3 linked regions of the Homo sapiens genome follow. The protein of the gene in region 1 interacts with the protein of each later gene in a pairwise test. Each region holds a gene or a part of one and is shown in the gene's direction. Other genes may lie near its edges. The genes, in order: SFT2D2, INPP5K and TMEM143.

The links.
Region 2: the proteins of SFT2D2 (region 1) and INPP5K interact in binary tests that used the Homo sapiens proteins (3 or more experiments, as listed by UniProt).
Region 3: the proteins of SFT2D2 (region 1) and TMEM143 interact in binary tests that used the Homo sapiens proteins (3 or more experiments, as listed by UniProt).

The regions. Positions count from the first base shown.
Region 1 is NC_000001.11:168,249,926-168,253,589, forward strand, and holds the end of SFT2D2 (vesicle transport protein SFT2B), read left to right. Parts: 3' UTR 1-3,096; downstream 3,097-3,664. UniProt on the Homo sapiens protein: May be involved in fusion of retrograde transport vesicles derived from an endocytic compartment with the Golgi complex.
Region 2 is NC_000017.11:1,515,096-1,518,841, reverse strand, and holds the start of INPP5K (inositol polyphosphate 5-phosphatase K), read left to right. Parts: upstream 1-2,229; 5' UTR 2,230-2,342; coding exon 2,343-2,386; intron 2,387-2,723; exon of another isoform or gene 2,724-2,954; intron 2,955-3,256; exon of another isoform or gene 3,257-3,415; intron 3,416-3,746. UniProt on the Homo sapiens protein: Inositol 5-phosphatase which acts on inositol 1,4,5-trisphosphate, inositol 1,3,4,5-tetrakisphosphate, phosphatidylinositol 4,5-bisphosphate and phosphatidylinositol 3,4,5-trisphosphate.
Region 3 is NC_000019.10:48,362,546-48,366,291, reverse strand, and holds the start of TMEM143 (transmembrane protein 143), read left to right. Parts: upstream 1-2,351; 5' UTR 2,352-2,371; coding exon 2,372-2,394; intron 2,395-2,760; coding exon 2,761-3,001; intron 3,002-3,746. Other genes in the region: SYNGR4 (synaptogyrin-4), read right to left, coding at 357-449.

The DNA.
Region 1 (3,664 bases):
ACTTATCTAGTACTATGTGCCCGGCGCTGTAGACACTGCCATGTTTTATCTCATTCAATATTCACAGTGACTGCCCAGTGAATGGTATTGCCTCCATCCTCTGAGAAGGTAAAGAGCCTATCCCAGACCCCACGAGTGGAGGCGTCAGGGAGGGGTTCTTGGCAGGAGATGGGTCTTGTAGAAAGGCTTCTGCTTTGCTTTCACTCACGGCCTGTGGCCAGTTTGCTCAGACAGCTCCCATCAGGACACCATTGGCAGCTTTTGCATGACCCTGCCTCCCAGGGTCTTCCTGCGTTTTTCCTTAAGTTGCCTTATTCTTTGGTTGTTTCCCTACTTGTTTTTGTTAGACTGTGGGAGGAAGAAATCCATTTCAAATCTGCTGAAACCTGTTACCAAGCAACAGCAGTGATTAAAAGCAACCTGATGAGTGAGTAAAGAATTAGGGTTTCAGACCTGTAGTTAATGATGGTCTCTGTCTCCCTGCTGCCCTGCATTCCCTTCCCTTCCGTTCACTGCTGGGTGAAGGAGGGCTTGCTGCATTTTGGAAGTTAAGGGAACCAATAAGGTGACTCTTTTGCAGATTGGAATATGGTGCTCAGCCAGCCATATGGAAGCACTGTCCTGGCGTGATCTGCCCTGGGCTGTTGGCTCTCTGAGTGCTGTCTTGGGAGGAGCACTGCCCTTCAGAACAGAAGAGATGGCTTCCAGTCCCCTCTCCCCCTTCTCCCAGTCTCTCTGAGGCTGCTTGTTGGGTATTGGGCGTGCTGTGTACTAACTCACTCCCGTCTCTTGTCTCATTATCTGAAATGCATCCCCTTTTGCAGAAAGGGCTCAAACGGAGCCTTCAGTTCTGCTCCTCTGCATAGCCGTAGCTCAGATCCTAGCTCAAGATGTCTTGTCTGGGAAGGGCAAAACATGGTCCCCAGTGTAGCATTTTCACTGGGTTGATTATCTCAGTGGTGGATCATCTATCACCCTTGTGTGGTGACTTTGTGAATTATCTGCCTGAGTGCCACTTCCCTTCCACCCTAATCACTGCAGGCTCAGGGAGCAAGAAATAAAATCATGAAATGCATTCCAAATAAAATTACCTTTTGGCTGGGTGCAGTGGCTCACACCTGTAATCTGAGCACTTTGGGAGGCTGAGGTGGGTGGATCGCTTGAGGTCAGGAGTTCAAGACCAGCCTGGCCAACATGGCAAAACCCCATCTCTACAAAAAATACAACAGCAAAAAAATCAGCCAGGCTAGCTGGTGTGCGCCTATAATCCCAGCTACTTGGGAGGGAGGCTGAGGCACAAGAATTGCTTGAACCCAGGAGGTGGAAGTTCAGTGAGCCGAGATCGCACCCCTGCACTCCAGCCTGAGCAACAGAGTGAGACTCTGTCTCAAAAATAAATAAAAAAAAAAATCACTTTTTGATACTTCTGTTAAAATAGATAATAAGGAACCATATCTTAAAGTGTGGAGGATCTGGCTTGGCTTCTGTTTTTGATAGCTCTATGAAAGTGACAGATTTGCATCATGAGACTTAGTGGAATGAATTGGGAAATTGAAGGGCAGCCCAGTGGCTATGGATTCTATTTTCTATGGGACTGTCTACGCCAGGCTTTATTTTCTCTTTGCTCAGATAACTTCTGACTAGAGTCGACGGTAGGATTATAAATGGTTTAAAATACGTATTCTCAAACCTCATTTTCAGCATATAAATTTTTAAGAATCAGTGTTTAAAGGTACGTGAAACCATTTGCTAGATTTTTGTCCTAGTTTTTTTTTTTTAATTTAAAAATCTTAAGTTTTTTTTAGTAAGCTTAAGATGTCCAGTAGTTTATTTGCAGACAGCATTTTTAAAAAGTGAATAGATGTTTAACTGAAGTTAAATACAAATTTATGTCTGTGTAACTCTTGGTAAGATATAACAAAACCTAGACATCTAAATTTTTTGGAAATTTTTATTTTAAAAGTTTGTTGGGAGGTAAAATTGTGTGACTTTACCTTCTGGTTAATAGTTTTATAGTTAAGAAGAAAGTCCAGCGAAGTTTACTTGATCTCAGTTGCACTCAAGAATAGGGGATTTAGTTCCACTTTGGTTATTTTCACTTCTACCCTAAATTCATAGTCCCTGATACTTAAGCTTTACCCTTGGCTTACCAGTTTTCATTGCAGCGAGTAAATGGGGAGTAGCAGAGCCTTTGTTAATGTAAATTGACAAAAAGTATGTCCTTTTCTAGCAGGAGCAGATAAACTGATAATGGTCTTAGAAATGTAGAAAATGATTTTTTGTAGACAGGATGATCTGTCTAGATTGTAGCAAATGATGGTACATATTCACAACAAAGTTGTGCCACTACATTTAATAAACAGCCACAAACAACAAAAGGACAACTGGTCCCCGATATAAATGGACTAGCTACCTGGACATAATATCCTTGTGAGGCATCCTTAAAGGACAAATTGCAGCTGGTATTTGGGTGAATGTTGTTGCTCTGTGCCTGTTGAATGTCCATGCTACAAGAAGTTATGAGCCTTGTTCTAAGTACAGATGAACCTTGTATTTGTGTAATCTCCCAAGGGAGAGCTATGGTTTACATTCAATTTTTTGGTCTTTCTGCTATGAAACGTGTTTATTTTGCCTCTGTCAATGTGTTTGCAACCTTAAGTAAGGAAAGGGAAAAAAAAAATAGCCCTCTGAACTCTGATCTTTTGCCGCTTCTGTAGATTTTGATTGTGAAGTTGGGAGTGAGGACATTCAAAAGCCCATGGTGAATGCATATGCCTTTAGAATATTGTGCCTGTTTTAAAATGTTTGAGCTTTTAAAATACGTTGTTAAAACATGAATCCATTTTTGTAATTGTATAAATACTCATAACTAATTTTGAATGCTACTGATTGTGTAACTGAATTTTTGTATCCAAAAATACATTCTTGAGTACTACTTTTCCTACCTTGAAAATCTATTTCATTTACTAAATATTGTTTTCTTTATGCTAACTTAACTTTAAAAGGAATGTTGCCAAGCTGTCTCTCCTCCCCCATCACAATTGTTAGTTTTTTTTGCTTTCTTTCTTCAATAAATGATAGCATTATGATCTTTAATAAATCTAGTGTTGTCTCTTACTCATGTCTGTATTTCCAGGAGTCTTTAAGCCAAAGGAAGACTGTAGAACTGTAAGAAAAAACCGTATCTTTAATTTGAATTCTCAGTGTGTAGCACACATTATAGGCACTTAAAGATGTTTTGGGGGACCTAACCTGACATGTAGTCCTCTCTTTTAAATGACTTAGGGTTTCACATGGGTCTAGGGACAGTTTGGAAGGTTTTTAAAAAGTAAGACATTTCCTTAAGTGTTTATTTTGGAAAAAAAATACACACACACATACATACATACATACATACATACAAACAAATAAATATATATATTTTTGAGATGGAGTCTCACTCTGCTGCCCAGGCTGGAATGCAGTGGTGTGTTCTTGGCTCACTGCAACCTCGGCCTCCCAGGTTCAAGTGATTCTTGTGCCTCAGCCTCCGAAGTAGCTGGGATTACAGTAGCGCACCACACCCAGCTAATTTTTGTATTTTTAGTAGAGACGAGGTTTCACCATGTTGGCCAGGCTGGTCCTGAACTCCTGACCTCAGGTGATCCACCTGCCTCAGCTTCCC
Region 2 (3,746 bases), on another chromosome or scaffold:
TCCTACTGGAGAAAAATGTCAGTGTTTTCCTATAAGCTCTGTGTTAGCTATTCATTATATTTGTGCTTAAAGATGTTCCTTCATTCATCAACTAGGGGAAGTCCAGATGCGGGTTATCTTGAAAGAAACAAACTGACATTCTAGGCAGACAGTTGTCTATGTGGTCTGAGGGTCAGCAGCTGTTAGTCTCCTTCCTTTGGCTCTTGAGACCCACACATATCACTTTAGCCCTAACAAGGGCTCCTCCCACCTCCACCTGTTGCCCCAGTTGAAAAGCATCCATTATGAGCTGAGGTCAGCCTGGATCTGGAATTGCAGCCCACATAAACATAAAGGAGGATGTCCCTGGTCTGTTCCATCCCCACGGATGGTGTTGCTGCTGGGCAACAGTGTTGGCTTCTTTTAAGTACCCCCTTTCCTCCTCACCCACCTCCAAACTGACTAGCACTCAGAGGGACTTATGATAAAGGTTCAGCTCCAGGGGTAGTACCTGAGTGTGTGCCATGCCCCTTCAGACCAGCTGCTTCCATCAGAATTCCAGGGTCACAGCCCCAACAGAAGCAGCAGTGCCTCTGTAGGAGGGGTGCTGGGCTCTGGCCTTCTCATGCAGAGAGGTCCGGGACAGGGTCAGTATCGTGGGCATGTGTATAGCTTCCCAAGTTCTTTTACAGTCCCTGCTGGGACTCCCTGACTTACTTTGGTTGGTTCCTAGTGCTACTTGTTTTACAAACTACACTTTGTAGAATTGATTAGATTACCTTGTTTATTTAATGTGAGTTTGTGCCTTTTTGTCTCAATCTTCCAATACAGGTATATTGAGAAAAAAAGCAGTCTAATAAAATCCTAGACAGAACTTTCTGGAGTCCAGTTTGGTGATGTCCATTTTCCAGCTGTATGTATCCTCAAACTTGCACTGATAACCGCCATTTTACCAGGGCAGGATTAGGAAGAGGTACAAAGGTGTGTCTGAAAATTTTTGCACGTGGATTTCTGCATATAATAGTCCCGTGTCAGTTTACTTATGCAAACATTGCACATCTGAATTGTAATTCGGCCGTTTCCTACTGACAGGATGTCCTTTTGCTTTTGTCTGCCTCCTCTTCACATCTTCCTCTTTATCCACCCTACCAAACAAGCAAAACATTTATTTAAAGTAGTTTTAGGCCGGGCGCGGTGGCTCACACCTGAAATCGCAGCACTCTGGGAGGCCGAGGCGGGTGGATCAGCTGAGGTCAGGAGTTCGAGACCAGCCTGACCAACATGGCGAAACCCCATCTCGGCTAATTATTATTATTATTTTTTTTTTTTGAAACGAAGTCTCGCTCTGTCGCGCAGGCTGGGGTGCAGTGGCGCAATCTCGGCTCACTGCAACCTCCACCTCCCGGGTTCAGGCGATTCTCCTGCCTCAGCCTCCCGAGTAGCTGGGATTAACAGGCGCGCGCTATCAAGCCCAGCTAGCTTTTGTGTTTTTAGCAGAGACGGGGTTTCACCATGTTAAGGCCAGGCTGGTCTTAAACTCCTGACCTCAAGTGAGCCGCCCGCCTCGGCCTCCCAAAGTGCTGGGATTACAGGCATTGAGCCACCGCGCCCCGGCCTACGTTTCATTTATTGACGGCTAATTCTGTAGGAGTCCAGGAATCCCCAAACGTCCCATATGCAATAGGTAATCCAATAAGTTTGGAGTAGAAGCCTGAAAGTGGGCGTGGAGAACGGAGGCGCTCCCGCAGTAGCAGGAATGGGGAGATTACCTGCAGCCGGGGGGCGGGGGAGACCGGATCCCAGGCAGGACAGTGGCTAGGCTGCGTGTCCCCACCCCCGACCCTCGTTTGACCCCTGGGAGCCGGGGCGAAGACAGCACAAGGACGGAGCCCTCGGATCCCTCACGAGTGGGGCAGAGGCTGCGGCGGCGGCGAAGAGACAACTTCCGCCGGAAGACGGCCCCTGGCGCGGGGCACGCTGGGAGCTGCGGACGGCGGGCGCGGGCTGGGCCGGGTCTAGTGGCGGCCGCACACCTCGCGTCGTCTGGGGCAGTGTTGCGCGTGCGCTGATGACAGGCCCGACACGCCCCTCTTACGTCCGCGAACCCGTCTTCGCTCAGCCTCTCGCAGCTTTGCGCTCGTGGGAGAGTCCCGCCTCCTTCTGCGAACCGCACCACCCAGATCCCGGGGTGCGCGGAGGGCGCGTCTCTGACGGAAGCCGGGGCGGACGGTCGGAGTCCGGAAGAAAAACAGTCCGCGACAGCTAGGCGCGTGAGACCGGCCGCCCGCAGGGCTGCTCTGGCCGGGACCCGCTGGCCGGGAGACGCGAACCTGCCGGACCACCGCGCGGGGACGACGGCGGCCATGAGCTCGCGGAAGCTGAGCGGGCCGAAAGGCAGGAGGCTCAGGTGAGGGCACCCTGGCGGCAGAGGCAGGCCTGCTCGGGGGGATCGGCGCCCCTTGGGCTGCGGGCTGGGGGTGGACAAGGCACCAGACCTCCATGACTGCCTTTGGTTCAGAGGCGCTCTCGCCTTCTCCCACGCCTGTGTCAGGTGGGCTGTGTTGGGCCCGAGCCTCGCGCCCCCTCTAAGCCGAGGCCGCCAAGCTCGTTCCCACTGGGGCGCAGCAGGTGTCCCGGTTGCTTTCTGGAGAGGACAGCCGTGTGGGGTTGTTTGAGGTTAAAGACATAACGAGGCCGTCACCCTTCGGCTCTCGGTTAGAAATCTTTTTCCTACTTTTCATCAGCACATACATCAGGAGGTCTGCCTGATCCCATGGTGAACCCCGGGAATCCGAAATCAGATTGAGATAAGATCCTTTAGGGAAGTGACTTAGCCTGGTCTCTTGCCTGCTCTTTCACGGGGAACAACGCTAATCGCCCACTTAGTCTAAGTCACGATGCTTGGATTTGCTGCTAATCGTCGGATTTGAGAGTGGGAACAAGAAATCCGGACTTTTGCTCTCCATCCTCTTAGAGTGAGTCTGGGAAAAGAAGTCTCTGAGTAAAAGGTCTTTGTTCCTTAAGCCTCTGTCGGACAGCAGGGGGAGATCGTAAACAAATGAAGCTCAAAATCTCAGGCCGAGTGCCTGGGAAGGTGGTTTCTGTATAGTGTTGTTTATGCTAACAGGGAGGGACAGGAAGTTGCTTTAAACTGGCCAAGAATTTCTTGAAGTGCTTTTGAGAACGTCGACCTCTAAGGACGGGGTCTGTTGGAGGAGAGATGTTTTGGCATTAACTGCCCTTTTCTCCCATCCCCCTGTACCCTCTGCCATTCCAGATCTCCAGCTGCTGCAGGTACTCCTCATCGTGTGCCTAGGACTCATGCTAGGCTGTTCCTGGTCTCTGCAGGGTCTGTAGCTCCTGCCCGCTCTGTGCTCCGCACAGTCTGAGGCTTCTTGAAGAGCTGCTGTGACTGACTGTTCCACTAAAGACATCTGTAGGTCTCTCTTTCCTGAGCCTCTGACTGGATCCAGTGTCATTGAGGCCCCTTATCTAGTTTTCTTGCTTCCCTAAGACTTGTAAGCTGAGGTGGAAAATATCCAACTGATGACTTTTCCCCAGAGAGTACTCTTTATTTTTCACGGAATACTACGCAGACATAGAGCATAGACTCTTAAGAGAGATGTCGAGAAACCTGTTACTTAAAAACTCCTTGGCCGGGCGCGGTGGCTCAGGCCTGTAATCCCAGCACTTTGGGAGGCTGAGGCGGGCGGATCACCTGAGAGATCAGGAGTTCAGGACCAGCCTGGCCAACATGGTGAAACCCC
Region 3 (3,746 bases), on another chromosome or scaffold:
CAGCCTCCTCAGTAGCTAGGATTACAGGTGTGTGCCACTATGCCTGGCTAATTAAGATTGTTTCAAAGAAAAAAAATTTACTTAACTTTTCTAAGCCCTAGTTTTGTTATCTCAGAGATGGGACTTGCAGCACCTACTGTGAGGGCTGTTCCTTACTATGAGAGTCCATCAGTGCCTCAATAGCATAGGGCCTATAGTGGGGTGCTCAGGAAAAGGTGGTGTCAGCATTTGCTCCGTTGTCTTGTTTCCCCGTCTGACCCCTTCCTTGTCCTCCCATCTCCCGCACTGTGTCTGGGAGTTGAGAGCTCCTGGCTCCTGTCACCCAGGGGCACAGTCGGGCCATGGGAGGGCCTCACCCCTTCGAAGACCCGCGTGATGGTCTTGGGCCTTCTCAGAAACTGCACGGCTTCGCTGTTGGCCAGCTCCTGGAGGCTTTTGGGGATGTGCATGGCAGCTGTTTTCCTTTGGGGCCACTGGGAGGTGGGAGCCAGGGTGCTGGGCGCTGCCTGCTGGGCACTGCCGTCCGGGGGCTTCAGGCCAGCCCTGGGCTTGGCTGCTGTGGGATGACACAGATGGGGGATGCCAGTCAGGGGCACGGGGTGGAAGGGCTGTTGGGGGCCCCAGGATTGGGGGACATGGGGTGGGGATGGGGGGGGTCCCCGGAATGGAGTTGTGTGGGGTGAGGGGACTGCTGAGCCTCTTAGGAGTCAGGGTGTGGGGTGAATGGGCTGTCAGGGGCCCCAGAAGTCGGGGACGTAGGATGGGGGTGCAGGTGGGTCCCAGGGAATGAGGTTGTGTGTGCTGAGGGGGCTTCTGTGGGCCCCAGGAGTGGGGGGCATAGGATGGGGGTGCTGGGGGTCCCAGGAATGGGGTTGTGTGGTGAGGGGGCTACTAGGGGTCCCAGAAGTGGGAGGCATAGGATGGGGGTTCTGGGGGGTCCCAGGAAAGGTGTTGTGTGGAGAGGGCTGCTAGGGGTCCCTGAAGTGGGGGACATAGGATGCGGGTGCTGGGGGTTCCCAGGAATGGGGTTGTGTGTGGTGAGGGAGCTTTCTGGGGGTCCCAGGAGAGGGGGGCATAGGATGGGGATACTAGGGGTCCCAGGCAAGGTGTCGTGTGGGGAGGGCTGCCAGGGGTCACAGAGGTGGAGGTGCAGGATGAGAGAGTCGCTAAGGGTCCCCTGGGTTGAGGTGTGGGTTAAGGGGGTCTATGGAGGATTCCAGAGAGGTGAGGGCCTGGGGTGAGGGTGATTCTGGGGGTCCCAGGAGTGGGGGACATAAGTGAAGGGGCTGCTTCAGGTTCCAGAAGTCAGGAATGTGGGCTGAGGGGGTTGTTGGGCGAGAGGGCTGTCAGGGATCCCAGAGGTGGAGTGCAGGGGAGGGCTGGGATATTTGGGGACCACGTCTTGTGACCCAGGAGCTGAAGGGCCTGCAGAGGGACTGGGTCCTTCTGTGAGAGGACACAGGTGGGACTTTCTGGGGACTAGGGGGTGCGGCCATTGAGATCAGAGCCCCTGGGAGGTCTGAAACCGAATAATCCCTTTCAGGTTTGGGGGTGACAGCACCCTTCGTGGAGAACCCAGGTATCTCAGGGCATATTTCAGGCTGTCCTTGTCACTTGGGGCCATTTCCCAGAATAAGGGCCTCCCTTTCGAATTCAGCTCCATTTTCACGGAAGTGCACCTCCTCAAGCTGGGAGTCGGGACCTCGGATTTGTGGGGAACCTCAGAATGAGGCCACGCCCCGGCACTGGGCTACCTTCTTAGAATCGCGGTCTCCCCTTTAAGGACCTGGAATGGCAGTGCTGAGGTTTGGGGGTGACGGCACCTGAGAAGGGGCCGCCCCTTCTCTGGAGGGCCAATCTGCGTCACCTGAGGGCCCGCCCTTCCTTTCGCCACCCCCACCCCTCCTGGTCCCTAGCGCCACCTCAGCCTTCTTTTGGTTCCGCTTTTTCCCGCCTTTTCGCTCCTCCACAGCTGATTGGCTGCGCCCAAGTCCCGCCCCCTCCCTCTTTCCGCCTACTCAGGAGCTGACACGAGCCGGGGCGTGGCCTCGGCGAACGTTGGACTGCGCGCCGTTGGCGGACTGCGCGCGGGAGCCCTACCCCGCCCCATCCCTCTAGGGAGTCTCGCGTCCACACCGCCCCTTCCCTTTGTAGCAAGCTGACAAGGAGACACTCCTGCGGCGCATGCGTCGCGCCCAAACGAGGCCGGCGGTGGAGAAAGGCAGGCAACGCATGCGTAGTTGATGTAGGGAGTCGGCGGTGAGAAATGGACAGCCCGCATTGACCGAAGCTTTGCGCATGCGTTTTACTGCTGGGTGAAGCCGAACCTCGGGAGCCCAGGACGCCCTCCTGCACATGCGCAGGAGGCTCAATGACAGTCGAGCTTTGGCTAAGGTGAGGGAGAAATCGGGGGATTGCATGGCCAGGGAGGGCGGCCCTGCACCCCCTAGGTAACCTTTACGAGCATTTCCTGCTCTCCTAAGATCTACCTCGCTGTCTAGACCCCAAAGAAACGTTGTACCACTACAGGGTCTCTGGGCCTGAAAAACGCCCCAGAACCTAAGACCTCTGACCCCTGTCTGGGACCCAGGCCAACTGAGCAGTGTGGGAAGGGGACAGGCAACAGGGGCTTTGAGGCGAGCGGATGGGCTCTGCGCCCTGCCTGGGGTAGAGACGGCTTCTGGAGGGTGGGACGTGGAGGTGGAGAGGGCGCTTTTCCTCTAGATGGCCTTTGACCCCTGCCCATTTTCCTCTGTTTAGGCTCCGGGGAAAGGGTCTAGCCATGCTGCATGTGACCCGGGGGGTCTGGGGGTCCAGGGTCCGAGTATGGCCACTGTTGCCCGCGCTCCTCGGGCCCCCCCGGGCCCTCTCATCGCTGGCAGCCAAAATGGGGGAGTATCGCAAGATGTGGAACCCCAGGGAGCCCCGCGACTGGGCCCAGCAGTACCGCGAGCGCTTCATTCCCTTCTCCAAGGAGCAGCTGCTCCGCCTCCTAATACAGGTACCGCCTGTCCCAGGCCCAAGAGCCTGGGGACTACGGCTCCCAGCAGGCTTCGCGGCGGCAGGGCCCTAGTTGCTGCAGAGAGCTGCCCTGGCGCCTCCTGGGAGTTGTAGTTCCCGGGTCCCTTCGTGTTTCCCTAGTGGGCGGGAGATGAGCTGGAATGCAGGAGCCAGGTCTCCGAGATGCAGACGCAGCATCCATTCCCAACTCTGGCTTGTTCTGAGGGCTTGAACAGGCACTCTCTGGGGCATGGTTTTTCCCTCTTTAAGATGGGTATAGTAATCATCCTCATCATTACTATTTCTACTACCTGATAATAATTGTACCTATAAAGTCACAACGCTGTAATCATAATTATTATCACACAATTTGAGCTCTGACTCCATGGCACTGTGCCAGACATTTTTCATGTATTGTTGAATCATCAGTAAGAGAGATACCACCATCATCCCCATTTTACAGATGAGATAATGGAAGCATAGGGAAGGAAAGTGACTTACCCAAGGCCACAACATAGTGGCTTAGATTTGAACCAAAGTGGTCTGACTCCAGAGCTGGCCCAGGACTAGGGTTAGGCAAGTAGGGCACTCGCTTGACCCTAAGAGTGAGTGCCCCGTTAAATTTTGCACCCTTGGGTGCCATATTCACCTCATCCTAGTCTTGGTCTCACTCTAGAACCTGAGGTCTTATTGCCACCATCATCATCATTGTCATTATTGAGGATTTTGAGGATTATTATTCATTT